Regions from separate parts of the Homo sapiens genome. Here region 2 is linked to region 1. The links come from fine-mapping of genetic effects on gene expression. A gene starts in region 1. The other region holds a variant in brackets. All regions are shown on one strand. Distances are between the middles of the regions.

Region 1 (4,450 bases):
GTGAATAAAGATCGTGTACATAAGGCATTTTTAAATCATAAATCACTATCCAATTTTAAAGTTTCATGAATTTTACATACTTTCAACATTAACAGGTTTAAGTCATTTATCCTTGAGCCAACCTCCAGATATATTGTAAATGGTCTATGACAAAGACAATAATATATACTAGAATGCAGATTATAGCAGCCTATAGTAGATTGTATGTTGTAGCTATTTTGAATAAAATTCCTTATTGTATGTAGCATTTAAGTGGTATCTTGACAGAATGGTAGTATAAACCCTTCCTCCTGAATTCACTTCATCTTGTGCCTGGGTCATAGAAATCAGAGTTAATATTACCTTATTTGAAAAGAGAGTAAATAAGAAGGGAGAGGAAAAAAGAGAAATCCTGTGTGTGTTCAGGATAATTCTTAGCAACAATTTACTTGATCCTTACTCTGCATGCTTTGAGTTTCTGCCCCATTCCAAGTGGACATAAGGATTGGTGCCCCTGGCCCCTCATTTCTCCCAGCTGCCTAACATTATTAAAGTATTATGTCTTGTTTAAACACACCTTGTAATTGAGCAAAGTTTAATAGTTAAAAGTAGAATTTTTAAAAATAAGTGGCCAGAGATACTCTTAAAATCACTCTCGTAAATTATATTAATTAAGTCATATTGGCCCCATTTTACCTCTCAGAGAAGCAAAAGCAAAAATAGAAGGAAAAAAGTTATATAGTGAATGCAAGGTCATTTTTATTCCAAGAATTTTAATCAGGGAGTTATTATTATAGAAAGAGCTTGGGATATCTCTTTACTCCTTAAAAAATAGTACTGCTAAAAATGCTAGATTATAAGAACAAATATCAGAACTATTGACTTGGCTAGAAGTTAACTGGAAGAAGGATAAGTATACTTCAAAACTTAAGCAGATTCAGCCTCATTAAAACTTTTAAAAGCTTCTAACCTACAGATTTTGTACTCTTAGGTTAAACATTTTCATATTTAAAACCGAATAATAAATATTTCTTTTTTTTTTACTTTGATACAGGTTTTCCAACTTAAAGAATTGTTTGCTGAAATAATGTGTTACAAAGTATGTCTTACAATGCTGCACATGTGCTTCCTGTAAAATTCATGATAATAAAATAACTCTTCAAAGACTCCCCAAAGTTTCAGAAATGAGAGCTATATATACATAAACACTAAGAGGCTCTGAGGAGAATAAGTTATTTAAGTTACATTAAATACAGCCATCTTCCAAAGTCCTCCAAAGTGTATATCTAGTCACTGTGGCCTTAAAGTACACATGACATAGAAGTCTCCTCTGTATTTAAGCAAAAGGAGAAATTTCACGATTTCACTACAATAAAATAGGATATGAAGATAAGATGTGGGTTTGAAAAAGGTGAGGCTGGAGGCGCCATTGCCATGAAAGAAAAAAAACCACATAACTTCTTTAGAAATCCTGTTTTAAAAGTTGAAAACAAAGTTCTGTAAAACTTTATATATATATATATGTGTGTGTGTGTGTGTGTGTGTGTGTGTGTGTGTATATATATATATATAATTTTTTTTTGATGCATCAGCTACCCTCCATAAAGTCCCAGGATGAACCACACAGCTTGGGAAGCCTTTCTCTGCAGGATGGGCTCTGATTTGAAGAAATTCTTTTTTTTCCAATTGGAAAAAGTTTTCCTCTTGGAAAGATTTCAGAAATCAATTTACGGGATGTATCGTGATAGCAAGACCTCTTCGAAACTAAAGAACAATGAAAAGCACTCCCCGTTCCTTTTGCAGGACTTAGGTAATTCCCCCTACACTACGCTCTCATGGCATTGAACTTGAACTTGCTTCAAGTTCCTCTTGCCCCAGAGCGCACTCTCTGAAGGCGAAGCAAGACGGCAGTCCACAGACAGCAACTCTCGGAAGAGTGGAAGAAGTGAGGAATCTCGGTCCCGGCAAAGGATGCAACCCAAGCCCATGCCTCGACTGTACCTCTTTGCTGATGTGCCTGTGACTGCCGCTGCTGCTGCGGCCGCTGCGCCTGTACGCCCCCGAGGCCTCCGGAGAGCAGCAGAAGGAGGAGGACCCCGGCGGCTCCCGGCATCGTAGTGGCCGCGACCGGATCCACTTCTCGGGAGCCAGAGGAGTCGCTGCCGCCCTGTCCCCTGGCCTTGGCTTGTGAGCTGAGCGAGCAGCAGCTGCTGGGGAAGAGGAGGAGACAGCCCCCTCTGGCTTTGGCCGGGCCGCCGCCTGAGGGTGGGGGAGAAAGAGGACACTCCTCCACTCTCGCCTTCCATGGGCACGCGGCCCCAGGACGGCCCTCTATTAAAGGATCCTCCTTTCCTAGAGCGCTCCTTCCCTCTGAGACCGGATCATTCCTAGCTTGACCTGGTATCTGAACTTCTTTTAAATTAAAGAAAGTAATTGACATGAAAGCACTTTGAAATCTGTAAAATCCCTACACATGGAAAACATTATTTCTGGGAAATGCAAACAGCTAGGAACTTTTACCTCTTGAGAAAGGCCTGGCAAAACTGTGTGCAGCCACTGTGTACCTAGAAGATCCAAGACATCCCCAAGGCCAGAGTGTCTGAGAAGTTACTAGCCGAGGGAAGGTGCCCTCTGGGGACACTGCAGGCTGGGGAACTTACTGCTAGGTAGGCTGCTGGGAGGGCAGTAAAGGAAGTGCAAAATAAAACAGCCACCCTGGCGTCCCTGAAATGTTCCTGACCAAACTAATGGTTAGAATGAAGGCTTTCAGTTCAGTTAGGAGACATTTACTTAAAGGTAATAAAGGCCTTTGCAATAGTTTCCTTCCAGACTCACAATTTCATCTCTTCCAGTCCTGGTTTCTCCTCTTTCTCCTCTTTAACTCAACAGAACTACTGCCATTCCTAGTTTTTGTTGTTTTTTCATTTGTTTTTTATGGCCTAGGTCAGTGGTTCTCATAAGGTTTAAAACAACTCCATAATGGATTTTGTGAGTCGCAGGATGTCTTTTGGTTTACTCCGGGAACGGTGGGTACTGCAGGCATTAGTGTACTGTTGGGTCAGGGTGTGAGCTGTCCCTCAGTGGTCAGGACAGTCCTACAACATATTTTGTCCTTAGACTTCTGAATGGGCCACTGGTCATTTATGTAGTGAGTAAACAAACAAACAAAACAACAAAACCTTGCCTTATATTTGAAACCTAATTTAAGTTTGTTTCCACATCAAATTTTTGTGTGTGTTTTTTGTTTGTTTGTTTGTTTTTTTCTAGGATGCATCTACTATATACATTGAGAAGATAATTTACTTTGTGTTTTTGGATTTTACACCCATTTGTCAATGGGTGTAAAGATGTACTTTCAGAGAAGCACATCACTGATAACAACCTTGCCCATGGTACTTGAGTCACCAGCACAATATCAACATCCCATCGATTACACTGGGGTCATCTAAGAATAGGTGCAAACTTTTATTTTATTTTGCCTCCTAAGGAAGTTTTACCCAAGCATTTATATGTTGAAATACATATTGTCTTATATAGATAGTTTTCTTTTTTATAGTTAAGATGTATTGATTTATCTAAATATTATATTAAAGTTGAATTTTCTTTCAGTAAAATTAAGAGAGTATTGCTTTGAAGAGAATTGATTGAAAATCACTAGCCAAAGCCCATTCTTTAATATTATTCATGTCTTTTAGTTCTGTTAATATTATACCAGAAAGCTTTGTAATCCTTTTACCTTACTGTGGAAATTTGCAAAATGTAGTCTGCCCATGTCTGCACACTTATACATTATTTATTATTATAATAAACAATAATAAAACTTATATTTGAGAGTTTATTATAATTGAAGCCCCAGTGTTTTTAATTTGGTCTAATTTTGCCTAGAAGTGTTTTTCAGGTACATCTAATAGCAGAGAGGCACCCTAAATTAACCTTCTAAACCTATTGCTATTCTCAGAATGATTATTTTTACTCAACCACGTTGTGGCCTCAACTCAAATTAGTTAATCTAATAAATAATAAAAAATATTTATAAAAAGGAAAAGTTTTATTGAATATTTATAAAAAGGAAAATGATTATTTTTACTCAACCATGTTGTGGCCTCAACTCAAATTAGTTAATCTAATAAATAATAAAAAATATTTATAAAAAGGAAAATCAGAATGATGCAGCTGCTAACTCTAATTGTGGAATGAAAATATACCATGTTCCCTCTATCCCCTTCCTCTTTACATTTTCCCAGGATTTTATAATCAATATTTGTACCTGCTTTTCTGCAGTTACTGCAGTTACCTGAGTTCCTATTTTACATGAAAATGCCTTGAGAATAAGACTATGATCTCCACTGTCAACTCTACTTGTTTGATTCAGCACATGGAAAAAATTCTTAAATATTTAACCCAAATTAAAATGAACCAGTATATTTAGAGCTATATTTTTTCCAAATAAACCTAAATAAGGTACAATTTA
Region 2 (4,000 bases), 480 kb before region 1:
TGATTTAGGCCAGACACTGGGGGGTACATGAGACTCTTTTCCCTTAATAGAAATCTGTATATTATAGTTCTTGAGTTTGAAAAACACTGGTTAAGAAAGTCTCTGAATTTCCCTAACAGTTGTGTCCCTTGATTTGGGGCTGTGGGAAGAACATTTACCAATTACAGCCAATACCGCTTGTGAAGCTTCTGTCACCTTGTCCCTGGCCCTTGCTTGTGACTGCACCAACCTACCTTTAGCTCCTGAGTCATATTTTCAAGACCATACAGCATTTTATATGGCGCAGGCAGCGGACCAGTGAGGTTGATGCTCATGACCATCTGCTCCAGGCGAGCCAAGTCACCGAGAAGAAGGCCAGTGCACTCATCTCCACAAACTGTGAAAGAGAAGTGACAAAGAGTAGTTACTTCTGCTAAACATCCCAGGCAGATGTTCAAAGAATTCAGCTATGAAATATTTTATGGTCCAAGAATAATTCCATGGAAGATGAAACTACTCATCTCAGAATATTAATGCTATCAAATGGATGATGGTTGAGGAAAGATAAGAACAACAACAAAAGAACAGATATGCATGTCGCCCAGAACCTGAAATAGAGGCGATAATATAAACTGAGGGACCAAAGAGGAGGAGCAAATAGATTTGGGGAGAAAAAGTGTATTGCACAAGTATTGAAGATTTCCTTTAAGGCATAGAATATAACATTAAAAGTACCCCCTAAATCCCTACATGAGCAATCGAAAGGAACCTGTCCACAGGGAATAAAACATGCTCCAGAGTCTAAATGTGTGGTGCTCCATTAGATTGCACTGGAGAAAGTCATAGTAATTTGACCTCCACATGCTTTATGTATTACACATTCAAAAAGTATATAAATTTTTAGCTTGGTATCTATTGAGTAGAATAATTAAAAAAAAAAAAAGTCTAAAGAAGGCCGGGTGTGGTGGCTCATGCCTGTAATCCCAACACTTTGAGAGGCCGAGGTGGGTGGATCACCTGAGGTCAGGAGTTCAAGACCAGCCTGACCAACATGGTGAAACCCTGTCTCTACTAAAAATACAAAAATTAGCCAGGCGTGGTGGCGGGCCCCTGTAGTCTCAGCTACCCAGAAGGCTGAGGCAGGAGAATCACTTGAAACTGGGAGGCGGAGGTTGCAGTGAGCCAAGATTGCACCACTGCACTCCAGCCTGGGCGACAGACTGAGACTCCACCCCCCAAAAAATAAAATAAAAAGTCAAAATAAAAATAACTTTTCTTTCTATAGTGTTTTCTTATGATAATATTTATTGACTTATTTATTTGCCAACTGTTCCTCTTTATCCCTTCAGTCTATTACCACCCATGATTAGATGCAGTCTCACAAATCCCTACTTTGATGATTAACCTCTTTCAGTCTTATAGATAAATAATTGCTAAAGGCTAGAAAAACTATATTCTTTAAGTAGCCAAGAATGCTAATATTCTACCAGATATGGTTTGGATCTGTGTCCCCATCCAAATCTCATATTGAAATGTCATCCCCAATACTGGATATGGGGCCTCGTGGGAGGTATTGAATCACTGGAGTGGTTTTAATGGCTTAGCACCAC[C/T]GCCCTAGTGATGTTCTCATGACAGAGTTCTCATAAGACCTGGTTATTTAAAAGTGTGTGCCACCTCCAGCCCCCACTTCCTCCTGCTCTGCCTGTGTGAAGATGCCTGCTCCAGCTTTGCCTTCTGCCATGAGTGAAAGTTCCCTGAGGCCACCCCAGCCATGCTTCCTGTACAGCCTGATGGAACCATGAGCCAATTATACCTCTTTTCTTTACAAATTGCCGAGCTTCAGGCATTTCTTTATAGCAATACGAAAATGGACTAATACACTCACCATAATATTTTTGGCCATCAAAGAGGTGCTATTCAAATTTGGTGGTAGGGGCCAGGATAGGTGGTAGAATTGGTAGAGAGACAAATGGATTGTTGACTCTTCATTATGGAATAGATCTCATAAATAGTCGTATAATTTCCAAAATTAACATATATTGAATCTTTTAGCAGATTTAAAAAACATGTATATTTTTAGTTTTGCATTGCAGAGTAATGAGGTGTATCTGCACGCCAAGGAGCAGGAACTACTGCATTTATAATATACTCTCATGTATACAGTTACAATTTCTTACATTCTGCAGATAGAGGTATCAATGCTATATACATGTTAGAATAGGGGAAAATACATAGCATGGAAAATACCGAGAATTGGAGCAGCTCTGGATCATGCCCAAACTTGGCAAGAATTCAATTAGGTCTCTAAACAGCAGTCCCCTGAGCTGCTTAATGGAGAGAAAACCATTAACTGGTGCTTGTAAACAAAGAGAAGGAGGACGGAGAGTGATTTTTTGATAGGACAGCAGCTAGAGGTGAGTTACAATATCACTTCACAGGGATTAAACTGCCCTGGCAGGGCTTTTAATAAATCAGCTTCTTGCAGGTGACACCTGCAGCTTCTTGCAGGTGACAACTGTAGAGCGTCACCTGCAGGGGCTTTGCAAGCTCCTGATGCTTCACAAGCTGAATGAACAAAGAGGCTTTGGAGGCCAGAGCAGAAGTCTGGAACTAGGGCTATATCTCTTACTCTTCTCCTAGCCAGAATGAAACCAAATTTGCACTGCATGGAAACCAAGTAAAAGATTATTTTGGCTTCATAGCCCCGTTCAATGCAAACTTCAACAGACTTGTCCACATTAAACAATTAGAGAAAACACAACATAGAACTCAGTTAAGTGCCAAATTGACTGTGTCTAAACACCAAGATCCACAGTCTGGTTCTCAAGCTTTAGTGGGCCTCAGAACCACCAGTAGGACTTTCGGAAATCCTAGAGGGCTGGTCCACACCCCCTAGTATTTCTGAATCAGGAGGTGATTTGATCACCTGGTTTCTCTTAGTCTCTGACTGAGAATGTGCTTTTCTAACAAGCTCCCAGGTGATATTGCTACTGTTGGTCTGTGCACCACACTTTGAGTAGCAATCAGACCAACAGTTTTGGCACCACCTGGAAGCTTATTAGAAATGTATAATCGGGCTCTACCCCAGATCTAGGAAATCAGAATCTGCGTCCCACATTATCTCTGCACATTAGAATGTGACAACATTGGTGTGGATCAGTGGTTCTCACCTTTGGCTGCCCATTGGAATCACATGAACATTTATAAAATACAGATGCCTGGGCTCTTTCCCTCCTCACCACCACAGAATATGATTTTTGATGGGTCTGTGGTAAGGTCTAACCATCAGTATTTCTATTTTTATTTTTTTCTGAGACAGGGTCTTGCTCTGCCACCCATGCTGGAGTACAGTGGTGTGATCATGACTCACTGCGGCCTCAAACTCCTGGGCTAAAGTGATCCTCCTGCCTCAGCCTCCCGAGTGGTTGAGACTACAGGCACATGCCACCACATCCAGCTAGTTTTTTAACATAGAGATGGGGTCTTGCTGTGTTGCCCTGGCTGATGTCAGACTCCTGGCCTCAAGTGATCCTCCCACCTCAGCTTCCCCAAGTGCTGGGATCATAGGCGTGAACCACTGTATTTTAAAAATATTCCAGTAATTGAAAAACCATGTAGCCAAAGGATAAAACCACTGGACCAGGTGATAAATTATAGGGATGCTCAATCTTCAAGGGAGCAAGGATTTGGAAGAGGTCCTTTTGCTTGCTGTCTTCTCTACCTAGAATTCTTCTCCCTTGGTCTTCTCCCACCTGGTTCCTAGGTGTTCAGGTCAAGTGCTCAAGTGTCACTTTTTCAGAGAGCAAGTCCCTGATGATTCTAAAATTACTGTTACCTGAAACTCCCCACCACCCCCAGCCCTATACCCTGCGCCAGTCACTACTGCATTTCCTTTGCTTTCTTAACACTTATGCCTGTTTGGGCTACATTATTACTTAATTTATTTATATATTCTTTCTTCCTCGTTAAAGAAGGGACCTTAAACACCTTGGTTATGGTGCCTAGGAAAGGGTCTTGTACA

Evidence for each region.
Region 2: its variant is fine-mapped to the expression of LAMA2 in blood mononuclear cells (TOPMed, PIP 0.98). The same link has a PIP of 0.9 or more in NK cells.

Annotation. Positions count from the first base shown.
Region 1 is chr6:128,880,888-128,885,337 of GRCh38, reverse strand. It overlaps LAMA2 (laminin subunit alpha 2), which reads right to left and starts at 2,200. Exons shown (of 65, transcript NM_000426.4): 1 at 1,981-2,200. The coding sequence starts at 2,092.
Region 2 is chr6:129,362,595-129,366,594 of GRCh38, reverse strand. LAMA2 (laminin subunit alpha 2) reads right to left here. Exons shown (of 65, transcript NM_000426.4): 33 at 234-376. Among named protein-coding and RNA genes, the nearest start is that of ARHGAP18, 350 kb to the left of the region's middle. The variant C/T (reference allele first, on the strand shown) is at 1,590.